2 separate regions of the Homo sapiens genome follow, and region 1 is linked to region 2. The links come from fine-mapping of genetic effects on gene expression. Tissue or cell type: whole blood. Region 2 holds a variant in brackets; the other region holds the start of a gene. Each region is shown on its reference strand, or each on the opposite one.

Region 1 (8,000 bases), not on the chromosome of region 2:
TCTTTTTTTTTTTTGACACAGAGCCTCACTCTGTTGCTTAGGCTGGAGTGCAGTGGTACAAGCACGGTGCACTGCAGCCTCAGCCTCCTGAGCTCAAGCAATCCTCCTGCCTCGGCCTCCCAGGTAGTTGGGACTACAGGCATGCACCACCACATCTGGCTAATTTTTAAATTTTTTGTAGAGATGGGGGTGGGTCTCACTATGTTGCCAGGCCTGGTCCTGAACTCCTGGGCTCAAGGGATCCTCTCGCCTCAGCCTCCCAAAGTGCTTGGATTACAGGCATGAGCCACCACACCCAGCCCCAAAAGTGTCTTTTTTGTTTTTGATTTTTTTTTTTTTTTTTTTTTTTACTTTTTTTCCACACTTGGTAATCAGGAAGTAAAAGGTGTCTTTTTGACTGTCGACTTTTTGACTGCCATAGCCTTAGTCTAAATGAATAGACAACACTGACAAAATGGAAAGGGTCAAAGGGGAGGCCTATTTTGGCCAGAAAGAGTGAAGGGGAAGAAAAGACAGGGAAGAGGCCCAGGATGGACGGTGAGAAGTGAATTTCACCAACCTTGAAACCTCATATAGGGAGCCCCAATCTGCTTGTCTTCTAATCTAAGAGTAAAAAGGAAGAGATGTCAAGAAGGAAATAAAGGAGGAAGAAAAAGAATCACCTGTTGAGCACTTACTGGATGGCAGACACTGCATGGGATGCTTTCACATGTTGTTTTATTGAGATATGTCAATGCAAAAAGAAAGAGTTCTATGCATGGGAAAAAGACTTAAAGGAAATACATCAAAATCCTAACAGTAAGAGTGTCAGATTACAAGAGCCCCTTTTTCCATTCTCCATAATTTTTAACCATAAATATAACATGGTGTATTAACATTATAATACAAATTAAACTAAAATTTAAGGTGGATTTCTGGGTACAAATCCACCCACCCTGGAGTATAGAAAGTAAACTACTATAAATTAAGCCAAACTATACACTGAATATTTAAATAATAAAGGAAAATGTAGCCATTTCAAATGTATATAATATGTAACTATGCAATTATAAACCCAGAAAGAGAACATGAAAGAAACTACACAGGTGATATGGACCGCAGATTGATTAAATAAGAACAGAAATATGTGAAATTGTTAAGAATGTTATAAATCATTTTCTCTCCAAATTATAAACTACCAAGATGTTCTGTGTGTGTGTGGCCTACATAACTATAAAATAACAGTCCTCTCTTCTATAAAAACGTTTAGACTTTTACCTGTCTGTTACATACTTTTCCACATTCACTGCATTATTTTCTTTCTTTTAGGTGTGCACAACTCTCATATTTAAATAATCCCCCTTTTTTTTGTCTTTTAGGGTATTTCAAAGATAACAGGTATTTTTTTTAATAAATGAAGTATGTCATTATAGGCCGCTCAGATTCTAAGCAATCTGAATCCCCAATTAATGTCTTCCAAATATGCATATTTAGTTTTTATTCTGCTCAAAAATGAAACCCTAACCTAAATACTTCAAGTGAAATTTCAGGGGAAAAAGACTGTTCAAAAACCTAGATAATGCATTCCTTTGTTGATGCTAAATATAGTCATCTCAAGATGACATACATTTTGACAATGATCAGCCTTACATGTCAAATTTTCAAAAATAGCACAAATTCCATTTTAAGGTGAGCAGGAACAATTGCTATTCATTACATTTCAATTGAAAATGGATTTTAAAATATGAATCTTTTATTAAAACTGGATTACATTGTAACTATGATGAGGAAAACTGGATTTAAAATAATTTTGTTGTGGTTTTAGCTTAGAATTCTTTAAGGGAATTGCAGATAAACTACATAATTGCATGCATTTTTCTTTAAATTGTTCCTCAGAAGCATTAGTCAAAATATAAAATATCTGCAAAAATACGGTGTTAATTGTAAGGAAGAAGAAACTTAAACAGCTACATTGGTTAATCAAAGTTTACTTATACAAATTATACCTCCCCCCAAAAAACCTTTCTCTCATTTGATTAATTATGCATTTTTTCTTAACAATACCCCAAACTCAAAAGAATTTGAGACAAAGTTTTCTAACTGCAGCAGTTTAACCTGTAAAGGATAATGTTTAGCGGGGGAAATTATGTGGTCCACTCAATAACGTGTGACTAAGATATAAATAACGTGTGACTAAGATATGAACTTAAGTATAAATACTTAAGTTTATTTAATCACATTACCTAAGACATAGTTATGTTGTGACTCGAAGGCCAATGGGCCGCTGCTACATGAATTCATTAACAAAATTTAACGATGAATGATATTCCCGTTGTTTTGGTCAGGGAACTAATTTCTTTATTATGGCTTCTTTTCTCTACCTGTGTCTTCACCAAGGACATTTTGTTAGGACATATCCTTATGCTATTTTTACCTTGTTATCTCTCTGCCAACTTGGTTCACGTTGTGCTTTAATAACTATAAAATGAGCATCTCTAAGTCACTGCAGTAACCAACTATAACCTCTCAACTTCGTCATTTTCTTTATAAATGCCAATGCTAATGCATTTGTAGAACGTTTCACAATTTACAAACAGCTGGAATGGTTTGGCGTTTTCAAAAGCATATAGGCAAAGGGAGTTCTCAAGAGGTGACTACATTCTTCACTCACTTAAACTACGTAAACTTCGTAAACTTCCAGCCCTAGTTGCTCAACCCCCAGCATCCCACCTCGGGCAGAATCACGAAAAAAAAAAAAAAAAGGGTTGGAGACAGGAGTGGGGGGATATGCGGGGGTGTGGGGGGGGAGTAATAGGCTGTTAAATCATATTTCTCCCCATCTTCCACAGAGACCGATCAGAAAGGATTTCTTAACTGGCACTGCTGGCAGAGACGGAGACCGCGGCTGGGGCAAGTGGTGGGGGACGGCACTGAACTTCCCTAAGGACCCCAAGGGTTCAGCCGAGGGATCGGCACCCACTCCGCTCACAGAGGGCTCCCTCCCTACAGTAGGGAACGCACCCGAAACTCAGCCGACAAGGCGCAGGGGAGCAGGGCAAAGACATTGCAACCAGAAGCCCAAGGCCGGCCGACACTTTCAGACCCTGGGGCAGCCCCTGGTAGGCACCCCGCCGAGCCCGCAGGATGCGGCTCCAAGGCAGGGTTCGCCCGGGCCGGGGCCAGCGCGGACCACAGCTGTATGGCGCCCGGCGCCCTCCGGAGCTGCAGCGGAGCACGGCCAGAAGCCGCAGACCCCGAGCGCCTCTCTGCAGCCGCCGTTCCCGCCCCCGCCCCCACCAGGGGACCCGACACCTCCGTCTCCACTCCCCCCAGCCCACGTTCCCCCAACTCTTCTCACCCTGCAGGAGCCGGTGACCGGCGAAGGTACTTCTTTCCGCGTGGAGGGACTGTGCGCGTCCCGCCTGGCTGTGGGTAGGGGTCTGGGAGCTCTGGCCGCTAACACTTCTGCTCCAGCCGCTGGGAGTCCTCTGGCTGCCGCTGCCGCCGCCGCCGCCGCCGTCTCCAGCAGCAAGTTTCCATAAAAGTCCTGGTGTGCAGCCTGTTCCCGCATTCCAGGCGGGCCCAGCGCCGGCTGCAGCTGTTCCAAAACACAAGGCCAGTTCCCCCAACCCCCCACCTCCGCCGTTATCACCCGGAGTGGGGGTGGAGAGTTGAGGAGAAAAGCAGGGGAGGGGGACCGTGGCTGCCAACTTTCCGCCAGAATTTGTCTGTCTCCCGGCCCTAGGTGCGCGAGCTGACCCCCTAACTTTGGGCCTGCCTCCACCTCCAGCCAGGCCTGGGGAAGGAAGGCTGCCTCCGCCATGGGAAAGGAATGAGGCTGAAATGGGCTTCATTACCGGGCTGAAGCTGGCTCCCCCTACCCGCAACCAGTTTGCTCTGGGGCCCACTTCTCTCAGCTACTCTACCCGTCCTAGTTTCCAGTCAAGAAGCCAAGCCACTACATATCTTCTACTACCCTAAGCATTGACCTTTGGCCAAGTTTTCCTTTATTACAAAGAGCGTGGGGCAGCAATCCGGGAACACTTCATCTGTCTATTGCTCCCCTGTTCTTAGCTCCAGTCTTTAACTCTAAAAGGAGAGTTAAAAAAGAAGAAGAAGAAGAAGAAGAAGAAGAAGAAGAAGAAGAAGAAGAAGAAGAAGAAGAAGAAGAAGAAGAAGAAGAAGAAGAAGAAGAAGAAGAAGAAAGTTGAAGGCAGAGGAGGAGGAGGAGAAGAAAAGAAGGAATATATTTATATAAGTACAAATATCTTTATATTCCACCTTTTTCTTAATTGAAGGCAAACCATATCTGGTCTTTCTAAAGCTTCATAAAGGCATCTTTGACTATTAGACACCCACAGACCTTTTTCAACTTGGACCGCCAGCCTGTCAAACCCATCAGACAATACCATATTAAAACCCGAAATGCACACTCGGAGTATTTTTGGTGGACGAGATCTTTAATTCTTCACTGCACTTGAAAAAAAAATCGAAATGACATCCAGATAAAGAATAAAGGTAACCACTTCCACCTTCAGGCCCTAAGCAGACAGCGGTGCTCAGGTTATATTTCAGGGATGTTGAAAAGGCCTTCTGGGCTGGGCGCGGTGGCTCATGCCTGTGATCCCCGCACTTTGGGAGGCCGAGGCGGGTGGATCACTTGAGGTCAGGAATTCAAGACCAGCCTGACCAACATGGCAAAAGGCCGTCTTTACTAAAAATACAAAAAATTAGCCTAGTGTGGAGGCACACACCTGTAATCTGAGTTACTCAGGAGGCTGAGGCAGGAGAATCACTTGAAGCCAGGAGGCGGAGGTTGCAGTGAGCAGAGATCATCCCACTGCACTCCAGTCTGGGTGACAAAATGAGACTCTGTCTCCAAAAAAAAAAAAAAAGGCCGGGCGCGGTGGCTCCTGCCTGTAATCCCAGCACTTTGGGAGGCCAAGGCGGGTGGATCACCTGAGGTCAGGAGTTTGCGACCAGCCTGGCCAACATGGTGAAACTCTATCTCTACTAAAAATGCAAAAAATTAGCCGGGCGTGGTGACGTGCGCCTGTGATCCCAGCTACCTGGGAGGCTGAGGTTGAAGAACCCACTTCGCTTGAACCCGGGAGGCTGAGGTTGCTGTGAGCTGAGATGGCGCCATTGCACTCCAGCGTGAGCAACAAGAGTGAAACTCCCTCTCTCTCTCTGTTTCTCTCTCTCTCACACCCGTACACACAAAAGGCCTTCTACTCAAATATAACTCTGTTCCCCAGTCCCATCCCCACAGTATTTACTCAGGATGGAAACTTTTCTAAGGAGGGTAAGCCATTCATTCCTCGATTACAGAAAAGTTCAAAATTGGTAATTAAAATTATTTAAATGTACCGAACTACGGATAGTGATAGGTGGTCTTGGTAGTCTTGCTTGTGCCCTTGCTCTCTTTGATGCCATCACCTTGGCCTTCTTCAGTTCATGAAACTTTCTATGGGCAGTCTGGCTGCAGGGCCTTTGTATAAGTTGTTCCCTGCATGAAATCCTTTCTCCCACTTTCCCCTTCACCTAACTTCAACATATCCTCCCGATCTCTTCTTAAATGCTGCTTCCTCGGAGAAGGCTTCCTTGCATCCCACCTTTCTCCCCACCTTGCACCTCACCTTTCATCCCACCTTTCTCTTCCCTATATATATATATTCCTATTTATTTGCTTATTTATTTATTTATTTATTTATTTATTTATTTATTTATTTGGAGATGTAGTCTCGCTCCGTCGCCCAGGCTGGAGTGCAGTGGCACGATCTCAGCTCACTGCAACCTCCGCTTCCCCAGTTCAATCGATTCTCCTGACTCAAAAGTAGCTGGGATTACAGGCGCGTGCCACCACACCTGGCTACTTTTTGTATTTTTAGTGGAGATGGGGTTTCACCATGTTGGCCAGGCTGGTCTTGAACTCCTGCCCTCAAGTGATCCACCCACCTCGGCCTCGCAAAGTGCTGGGATTACAGGTGTGAGCCACTGTGCCCTGCCCCTATACATATCAATTTATAATTACATATTTATTTCTGTGATTTAAAGAAGTGAGTTGGCTGAGCATGGTGTCTCACGCCTGTAATCCCAGCACTTTGGGAGGCTGAAGCGGGTGGATCACTTGAGGTCAGGAGTTCGAGACCAGCCTGGCCAACATGGCGAAATCCTGTCTCTACTAAAAATATAAAAATTAGCTGAGTGTGGTAGCGTGCACCTGTAGTCCCAGCTACTCGGGAGGCTGAGGCAGGAGAATTGCTTGAAACCAGGAGGTGGAGGTTGCAGTGAGCCGAGATCATGCCACTGCACTCCAGTCTGGGCGACAGAGTGAGACTCTGTCTCAAAAAATAATAAATAAATAAATAACTAGAAACTTAACAATTTTTTATTTTTATATCCACCCAATAGATTCACCAGATTAAACAAAGCTCTCCATTCTCTCTGTAGAACACTGATAGCTACTCACAGCATGCAAGGCCTGCTTATTTTCCCACCAATTCATCATTCATTCATTCAACAGATATTCAGTTCTATATGCTAAGGATACAGCAGTGATAAAGGAAAAATCCCTGCCATTATGGAACATACATTCTAGTGAAAGAAGGCAGACAATAAGCAAATAAGTGAACTATGTAGTATTTAGTGACATGTAATATGGCAATATGGATAATACCAGAGCAGGGAAGTAGAGAATGCTGGAGGCAGGCTGAGTAGATGTTGTAATTTTAGATAGAGTGGCTAAGGAAAGCCTCATATGAGTAAAAGCCTTGAGGAGAGTGAGGCAGTAGGCTATGTAAATATCTGGAGAAGCAAATATTTGGAGGAAGAGTGGTCCAGGGATAGATACAAAGGCCCAGAGAAGGATTCTATCTGACATGTTCTAGGAAGAACCAGGAGGCTTGTGCGAGTGAAGCTGAGTAGGTGAAGGGTGAGGTAATAGGAGGTGCAGTGGGGAGCAGGAGACAAGACTACGTAGGATTTTGTTTGTTTGAGAATAAGTCTCGCTCTGTCGCCCAGGCTGGAGTGCAGTAGCATAAACTCTGCTCACTGCAACCTCCGCCTCCTGGGTTCAAGCGATTCTCTTCCCTCAGACTCCCGAGTAGCTGGGATTACAGGCACCTGTCACCATGCCCGGCTAATTTCTGTATTTTTAGTAGAGATGGGGTTTCACCATATTGGCCAGGCTGGTCTCAAACTCCTGACCTCAGGTGATCCGTCTACCTCGGCCTCCTAAAGTGTTGGGATTACAGGCGTAAACCAACATGCCTGGCCTTTTTTTTTTTTTTTAGAGACCCAGGCTGGAGTGCAGTGGTGGAATCACAGCTCACCGCAGCCTCTAACTTCTGGGCTCAAGCGATCCTCCTGCCACAGCTTCTCTGAGTAGCTGGGACTACAGGCATGCAACAACACACCTGGCTAATTTTTTAGTTTTTGTAGAAATGGGGTCTTATTATGTTGCCTGGGTTGGTCTCAAACTCCTGGGCTTAAGCATCCTCCCACTTCGGCCTCCCAGAGAGTAGGGATAATAGGCATGAGCCATTGTGCCCAGCCTCTTTTTGTACAGCATTGTAAAGATTTTGGTTTTTACTCTAACATGGGTGGTCTCTGGTAGGTTTTGAACAACATAGTGACATGATCTGACATGTTTACTCTCTCTAGCTTAAGTGCTGCACATACACCAAATGAGGCAAGAGAAGAAGCAGGGAGATCAATTAATTAGGAGGCTTCCACAATAATCGGAATGAGGAATGGGGATTTGGGCCAAAGTGATAGTTGTGAAGGTAGTGAGAAATACCTGGCATATTTTTTTTTCCTTGTTGCCTTTTTAGGTAGAAATGGTAGGATTTTTTTTTTTTTTTTTTTTGTAACTGAATGTGAGGTGTGAGGAAAGGAGGTTTTGGGCCTTTGATCTGGAAGAATGGAGTTGTAATTTACTCAGATAGGGAAGGTTGTGGGAAGAGGAGGTTTAGGCAGGGGTGGTAAGGAGCTCAGTTTTGACATGCTAAGTTTGAGAT
Region 2 (8,000 bases):
TTGTGATGAAGGCATTAGGAGTCACTATTTTTAAAGTTAACTTCAGTTGCCATTCACAGAATAGTGAACAAATCATAACTATACAGCTAGATGCAGTTTTACAAAGTGAACACAGCTGTTGAAGCCCAGCCAATGGAGAAATAAAGCATGACCAGGATCCAGAAGCACCCTCCTAACTCCTTCTAGTCACTTTCCCCACAAAGGTAGCCACCATTCTGCCTTCTGTCAGCATGGATTAAGTTTGCCTGTTTGAACTTTATATAAATGGAATAATAAAATATATACTTTTTGAGACTGGCTTCTTTTGCCCAACATGAGTTCATAGGACTCAGTCATGATGTTGCATATAGCAATAATTTGTTAATTTTAATTGCTGTATGTTTTTCTATCGTATGACTACATTGCAGTTTATCCTTTCTACAGTTGGATATTTGGTCGTATCCAGTTTGGGGCTATAAATCAAGCAGCAATGAAAATTCTCATTTGTGTCTTTTGGTGAACGTATAGACACATTCCTGTTGAGTAAAATTGCCAGGTCGTAAGAGAATGCTTATATTCAGCTTTAGTACTGCCAGACAGTTTAGACTTCCGAAGTGGTCCTACCAATTGGCACTCCCACCAGCAGATTGTAAGAGTGATGGATGGACACACTCATGTTTGTTTTTGTCTCTTCATTTTAGCCATCTTGGTGGGTGTGTAGTGGTATCTCACTATGGTTTTATTTTACATTTCCCTGATGTAATGATGTTAAGCACATTTCTGCATGTTTCTTTGCCCATTTAAATGTTCTCTTTTTGAAATGCATGTTTGAGTGCTTTCCTTATTATTATTTCTTTTTATTGGGTTGCTTGTCTTTTTCTGATTGATTTATAGAGTGCTTATAAAATCTGGATATAAGTCCTTTGTCAGATAAATGTATTAAAAATGTCTCCTCCTATGTGGTAGCTTGCCTTTCACTTTTCAAATGGTATCATTTGATGAACAGAAGTTTACTTAATGCAGTCCAATTTATCAGTTTTCCCTTATGCTAGGCATTCTTTGCATTTTATTGAAGAAATCTTTGCTTACTCCAAGTCATTAATATAGTTTCTCATTTCTTATAGTTTCTCATTTCTTAGAAGCTATATTGTTTATGTCCACACTTGGTCAAGCCACTACTTTTTAAAGGATTCTCAAATAAATGGAAGCTAGCCAAAAAATAATGTTTTAAGGCAGTGGTGGTTTAATTTCTAAACCAGCAGACAGCACTCAACCTGTCAGGAACTCTGGGGTCATTTAAGTGGGATGTAGTTGACAAAGCCTGTTGCTCTGCAAAGGCTTGACCCTGACCAGGTAACCATGGGAGATTGATCACTTTTCACATGTATCCTAGTCCTCACGTGCACAAACCTACTCTTGCTCTAGAAATTCCAGAAAGATGTATAAAGGGAGGAAGGATGGTGAAATGGTAACCCTGGGTGCTCTGGGAAATGCTTCATTCTTTGTTTATCAGTCAGAGTGTAGCTCATTCTGTCTCTGCAACATTTGAGAACCTTCGTGTCCAACCTCTAAACCCAGTCTCCTGGCTCTAGAACTTCATAGATGACTGGCTTTGTAGTGTTAAACAAATCCCTTAACTACCTCAGCCTATTTCTTGATCTGTAAAATTGGGACAATAAGGAGGCCCCCTCGGAGTTTTTATTTGTTGGATGGATGAATGGATGGATGGATAGATGGATGCATGGATGGATGGATGGTTCGTTGCTCTAACCATTAAATAAGATCAGGTTTATAACACACTTAGTCCAGCTCTGACACACAGTTCAGTGCTCAATAAAAGCACTTGTCATCTACTGTCTTCCTAATAAACAGTAATTACTTGCTGAATACTAAAATGTCATCAGCTTAGCAAATCTAATGTAGCAGATACTAAAAGAAACCCAAATTCTTTTAAGAAGTTCACAGCACATCTTTGCCTTGTGATCATGGTCACAAATGTGTGTGAGTTTGAAACATCATCAAAACAAAAGACACTTCCTTGGATATTTAAATCGGAGCATACCCAACTGCTGCTGAGGGCATGTGATATGGTTTGGATGTTTGTTCGTCTGAATCGCATGTTGAAATGTGATTTCCAATATTGGAGGTGGGGCCTGGTGGGAGGTGATTGGGTCAGGCGGGCAGATCCCTCGTGAATGGTTTAACACCATCGCATTGGTGATGAGTGAGTTGTCACTCAGTACACATGAAATCTGGTTGCTTAAGATTCTGGTCCCTGCCCTCTGCTGGGCCTCTTGCCCCTACTCCCACCATGTGACACCACCTGCTCCCCTTTGCCTTCCACCATGACTGTAAGCTTCCTGAGCCCAGCCTCAGGTACTTCTTTATAGCAACACAAGAACAGATGGATACAGTGTGCATGTGCTTTCTGGTGAACGTTTCTAAAAGGTTGTGAAGACGGTGATGTGTGATTCCACAGCGTGGGGTACTGGCTTATTGCAATACCCTCCAAACTGGTGCTCCTGCTTCCTCTCTGGTCCATCTTACATCATCATGCCCATCCATTAAAATTATCTCTTTAAAACATGAATCGAATCGTGATTTCCCATTGCACTTAGAATCATATCCAAACTCCTTTCCACACAGATGAATCAGTGTCTAATCTTGCCCCATCAGCCTTTCCCACCTGGTTTCCTACCACTGTCCACTCACACGCTATGCTCCAGACACAGCAGTCTCCTTAATCATTTCTTCAAATCACCAAGCTTTTCCCTGCCCTAGGGCTTGCCTCAACTCACTCCACCTCTCAAGTCACCTCTCAGGGAGCTCTTCCCTGATTACTCTCCCTAAAGTGGAGTAGAAGAGTCAACTCCTCATTTATCATATTATTTCCTCCATAAAATGAATCTTGTTCATTTATTTGCTTGTTTGCCTGGCTTCTCTCTTCCACTAGTATCTAAACTGTATGCCTTATTTCAGGAACACAGTCGATCCTCAATAAACAAAGAAATGAATGGCCATTGGCTATCCTTAAGGCCAATGGTCTGCCAGGTCTTCACTGTGTGGTGCGTATCCTCCTGCTTCCTCCCCTTGGTAACCATCAGTTCCTGGTGCCCCGTTCTATGTCATTTGCAAATTCCATAGGGGCTCTCCCTCTTCCCTCTATTTTCCCATTGGAGCTTACAGCCCCTCAACTCCCCAGCAGATCTATGTTTTCATTCAAGTCTCTCCTTAAATTCCATTTTATCCAATGACTAAAGTTACTTCTCTAGTCTCTAGTTAATGATCATTGGCTACATCCCCCCAAGAGAAGAGTCAGTGGTGGTGATGTAGTGGGGTGCCCCTTCCCCATTTGGCCTTCTAACAGGTGTGGGGGTT[A/C]CTGACATCTCTGCCAGGGGTTTCCTCATGTCACCAATTCAGTAACATAAACTGCCAGAGTGTCCCCTTGGAATGTTTCTTAGTCACTGGTTTCTTGATTGTGGCTAACAGAGGCCAACCCAACTTGCTTCATTCACAGAGAGGAGTAAGAACCTAGGCATGTCTCTGGAAACCTAGGAGCAGAAAGCATGCCTGGAGCTTGTACAGATGCTTGCCTTGATATCTGTTCCAACAGTAAGCAGTCCACAGAGAGTAGCAGTACCAGGTTTCTGGGAGAAAAGTATTCCATTGATCCAGGTGGTGAGCCCAGTTTAGTCAGATGTGGCTCATGGGAAGGACTCCCAGGGGATGTTCTTTAACCCTTTTTCCCGTTTAGAAAAAAAAAAAAGTGCAGCTCAATGCCAGTGCTCATTTAATCCTACATAAACATGCTCTTTGAGGCTGAAGCAAATCTGACTGATTTTCGATGCGAAAATAAAATATAAAAACTGTTCCTGGAGTTATTTCTAAACAGAACTAACATCTGAATCATCTGAATCGTCTATTTCAGAAAAAAATCAGATTCATCAAATGAATTTTTGGCCAACAACTGTTCGGGAACAATGTTAACATCACGTGTAGGGATGCTACATTTTCTAGGATTTGGCATTTTTCAGCAATTGAGAATTACTATATTTTGTAAGTGGAAATTCCACTACTAAAAACAGAATGCTATAAATAAAACGATGTTTTGTTTCCAAAGTCAATATACTAGAGTGATGCAAAAATAATAATAAAAGCAAGATATTTCATGGCAAAGTTATCTCAGGGTAAACGCTGCAGCCACAAGTGCCACTGGTGAATATTCTTGGGGCAGACAGGAAAACAGTTACATGGGAAACCGTTCTTAGAAAGGCATGGGCTGTTCAAACACCCAGAGGGGCATGTCCTATGAGACCCCTCAGAAGCATTTCCATGACTCCCACCTAAGAGATCACATATTGACCGGGAACTGCAGCAGGAAAGGCTGACCAGCCTGATCTGGGAATGTTCCTGATGGAAATGAAGTAGGGCCAGAGTTTTTTTTTAAGGAAGAGCAATGTGACAGCAAGGACATTAGTTAGAGGAAGCTCGGTTATCAAAGTGGAAGGAGGAGGCACCATCTGGACTCCAAGGACCACTATTGGGATGGCTTGGAGGGTGGTGGTAGTGGGAGAGGAGGAGTAACTAGGCCTTCAGGAATGCAGCAGACCCAGAGGTTAGTGCTGGTGTTCATCTGCCTGAATTCAAACTGCAGCCCTACCACTTAGCCTTTCTGGGCCTCCACTTCCTTGCTTTGAAAATGGAGGAACAGTGTCGAAAGAAGAATCCATGAAGAGTGGTGAGTTGGTACTATGTTGGACATATAGTAAGCCATCAGCAAATATTAATAATTAAGCTCTAGAAGGATATAACTGCATCTGCCTTCCAGGGATCCTTTGCGGAGTGCTTGGAACATACTAAGAAGGAGCGTTTCTGCATGAGTCTCTCCCATCCCTTGGTACCCTGATTTCAAGCTTTAAAATAATAGTGGTCTTGTTTTTAATCATAATGGTTTGATAATAGGAAGCCACACTCATATCCTACCCAGCCTGAGGAATTAAGGGACTGGTACTTGTTTTTATATAACTAAAATGTACATAGGAGGGAAAGTCCTACATCAATTCCTTCATGGATGTCCTCAATTAAATCATTGGAATCTGTATCATTAAGATAGACTGAGTCCATTAGGTAGACAGGCAGGTGAAATCTACCTGAACTTATTCAAAATGCTTGGAAATTGTTCATCAGTAATGATGTATCAACGAGAGAATACGTTTTATATTTCTAAAATTATAGGTGTCTTCCTACAGGGGGGAATGTATCTTCTTCCTCCAGTGTGTAGTGAGCAGTTTTCGTGAACACAGCTTAACACCCCTTCAGCTATGTGTTCCCTTTGATCCCTAGCTTATTAAAAAATGCAAATCCAAATTGTATCTTATTAATGTGAGCTTTTGTGTTAAAGCTGTGGGGGGCTAAAAATCCCTGTTTCTCTAACATGTTTGGATTTTTAATGTGCAAAGAGCTTGATTTTCTGCAGGCCATATTTTCTAATCAACTGTTATGAAGGATTTTTTATTGTGCTGCTATTTCTTGCTTTCTTGGAATTCAAGGAGATAAAGAGTAATGACTTCATTGTTATACCCTAAGTATTCTCGAGCATGTTGAGATCCTCAATAATTGGCTATAACATCTCCTGTTTTCCAGGAGCATCCTGGAAGCATATTTTAAAGATGTGTCTAATGTTGGAGGTAGTTGATCCAGAGAACTTACTGCTCATTGCCAACAGGCTTGTGGGGCATATGGGAGGTGACAGTGTCCAGCCAGTCCCTTTTCTGAATGTGTACAACAGTCCTTAGACCCAGTGTGCTCTTGTTATTAAAACAATTTCTTTTCTTTAAAAAATAAGGTGCTTGAAATTTAATTTGAATCAAGTTAAAAATTGATCCCATTAGAATACAGCTGCATTTTTCTCACTTGTCCCATTTTTAGTTCAGCCAGCTCTTCATTCTCTCATCCTTCTTCTCTTTTCTTCGTGCCCTGGAATAAGCTTCTTCTTGTATTTAATGATTATTCTTCTTAAGATCAAAGCCAATTACTTCAAAAAAGCCATCACATGGAAATGATCATTTTATATTTATGAGGCTGTCCATATGTACCCCCTAGTAAAGCTCATTCTGGAACAATCTTTTGAGCGTGGGAGTCCTGGCAGGGTGGAAGAAGCAAGTGACTGGTGAATGATAAAACTAACAACAGCCAAGACTATTGGCGTCTGCTATGTGCTAGGCATATATTATCTCATTTAATCATTAAAACAACCCCTGAGGTTTGTACTGTTATTATCATATCCCCACTTCACAGATGAGGAAATGGAGGCACAGAGGTGAATGACTTGCTCACATTTGCATGATCACAGGGGTCAGAAGTGGGGTACAGCCCTGGGAGTCCTGTTGAGAGTCTTCACCCTCAATCACTGCACACCACACATGCTTCCAGCTATGGGAAGAAGTTCTGGGTTCTTCTCCTGACTCTGCTATTAGCTAGCTAACTGCTGTGCCTCACCTTTAAATTAGAATATTGGACTAGATTCTCTCTGAGGTCACATTTGGCCCTGAAGTTTTTAATTCTTAGTAACTATTTTAAAGTGTTGTAAGGTGAAACCGGAAGACAAAAGGCAAAATTCTCAACAGTCCCTACCCCCCACCCCACACACATGCACACACACCCATGCATGCACACACGCATGCACACACACACATGCACACACGCATGCACACATGCATGCACACACGCACATGCACACATGCATGCGCGCACACACGTTCTTTGCCTTCACACTAGATAAAACCACAGTAAAAAGAATCTCAACTATCACATCCTACTGTACTTCATTTTAGGCAGAAAATGTTACAACTTGTATTCCAAAAAAAAGCCACCTGCGGCTTTCTGACACCTCCACTGGGGTCCCCCGGAAGCGGATATCTGGGGGAGGAGCGTGCGTGAGGTTTGAGTGAGAATAGCGGAGGGTCTATTTTTAACCTGAGACCTTTTGCAGAGTCGCTGCCTCTTCTGTTGTCTCCAGTTCTAGGAAAGGAGCTTTCACCTCCGTTCTCATTCAGAGATGGCTCTGTGGTTCATAAAGGAAATTTTCTCTTGGTTGCTGTTGAAGTGTTCTACAAAAAGAAGTTTGATGTGCTCTGTGTGAGGATGGCAGGTGGCAGCTTTCTGTGTCATTCTTTGACATGTGCCAGCTGACGTGAAGTGACTTGTGGTGACAGAGTCACACTAGGCGCTAGCACTTTCTTTTTTCTTGATAAAACAGGTAGCCCTTTCTGTGGGGAGTCAAGAGCTGGGGCATAAGCTAGTGTCTTCCAGGAAAAAAAAAGGACTCATCACCATGCGTGTTTTTAGATGAGATGGTGCAGTGTGAACCACCAGCTCCAACCAATTGTGCAGATGCGCTTGACCTTTGGTGACTGACAGCTGCCACAGGATCTGTCAGGCTGCCCCTCCTACTACTCCCCTCCCCCTAGGGCCAAAGGGCTCTCTCAAAGCTATTTCTGCAGAACTCCCATTAGCTGTTCCCCAGGAGATTTCGGGACACAAGCGCACTCAGCGTGTTCTCTGTTTCTGTCTCTGTTTCTATCTCTTTTTCTATCTCTACCTCTTAATGGAACATTTCAAATATGCAAGCAAATGTAAACAACAATAATAGAAATGTATGTACAAGCCCACCTTTATCAAATTGTTAACATTTTGACATATTTGCATCTGATCTCTCTCTCTCTCTCACACACACACACACACACAAATAAATAAATAAATTCACTACAGATCCTTTTTCATCCCATGATCCCCAGGGGTGTATTTCCTGTGAAGCTAATGAAGTTTAAGATTGTGGCACCTCCCTTCCACAAGCCCTAGGAGAGGCCCTTGTAGTGCATTTACATGAATATATGTTTTTGTAAAAATTTGTAAAATTTGCAAAAGTGAGAGATTTAACTGCAATTGGTGAAGATCACTGTCGCTTTTCACTCTGAGCTTTCTTCCCTCCACGTTCCCTTCTGTCCAGCAGGATTGGACAG

The links. PIP is the estimated chance that this variant, and not a neighbour inherited with it, causes the effect. A credible set is the group of variants that fine-mapping cannot tell apart.
Region 1: NEXN starts here. The variant in region 2 is the best candidate, but not a certain one, in a credible set for the expression of NEXN in whole blood (TOPMed, PIP 0.80).

Annotation. Positions count from the first base shown.
Region 1 is chr1:77,884,097-77,892,096 of GRCh38, reverse strand. NEXN (nexilin F-actin binding protein) reads right to left here and starts at 3,473. Exons shown (of 13, transcript NM_144573.4): 1 at 3,338-3,473. It overlaps NEXN-AS1 (NEXN antisense RNA 1), which reads left to right and starts at 2,558. Exons shown (of 3, transcript NR_103535.1): 1 at 2,558-2,629; 2 at 2,829-4,497. RefSeq lists a silencer at 3,089-3,228 and an enhancer at 3,469-3,528.
Region 2 is chr10:116,146,750-116,154,749 of GRCh38, reverse strand. All of the region lies in intron 5 of GFRA1 (GDNF family receptor alpha 1), which reads left to right. Among named protein-coding and RNA genes, the nearest start is that of SNORD158, 44 kb to the left of the region's middle. The variant A/C (reference allele first, on the strand shown) is at 3,358.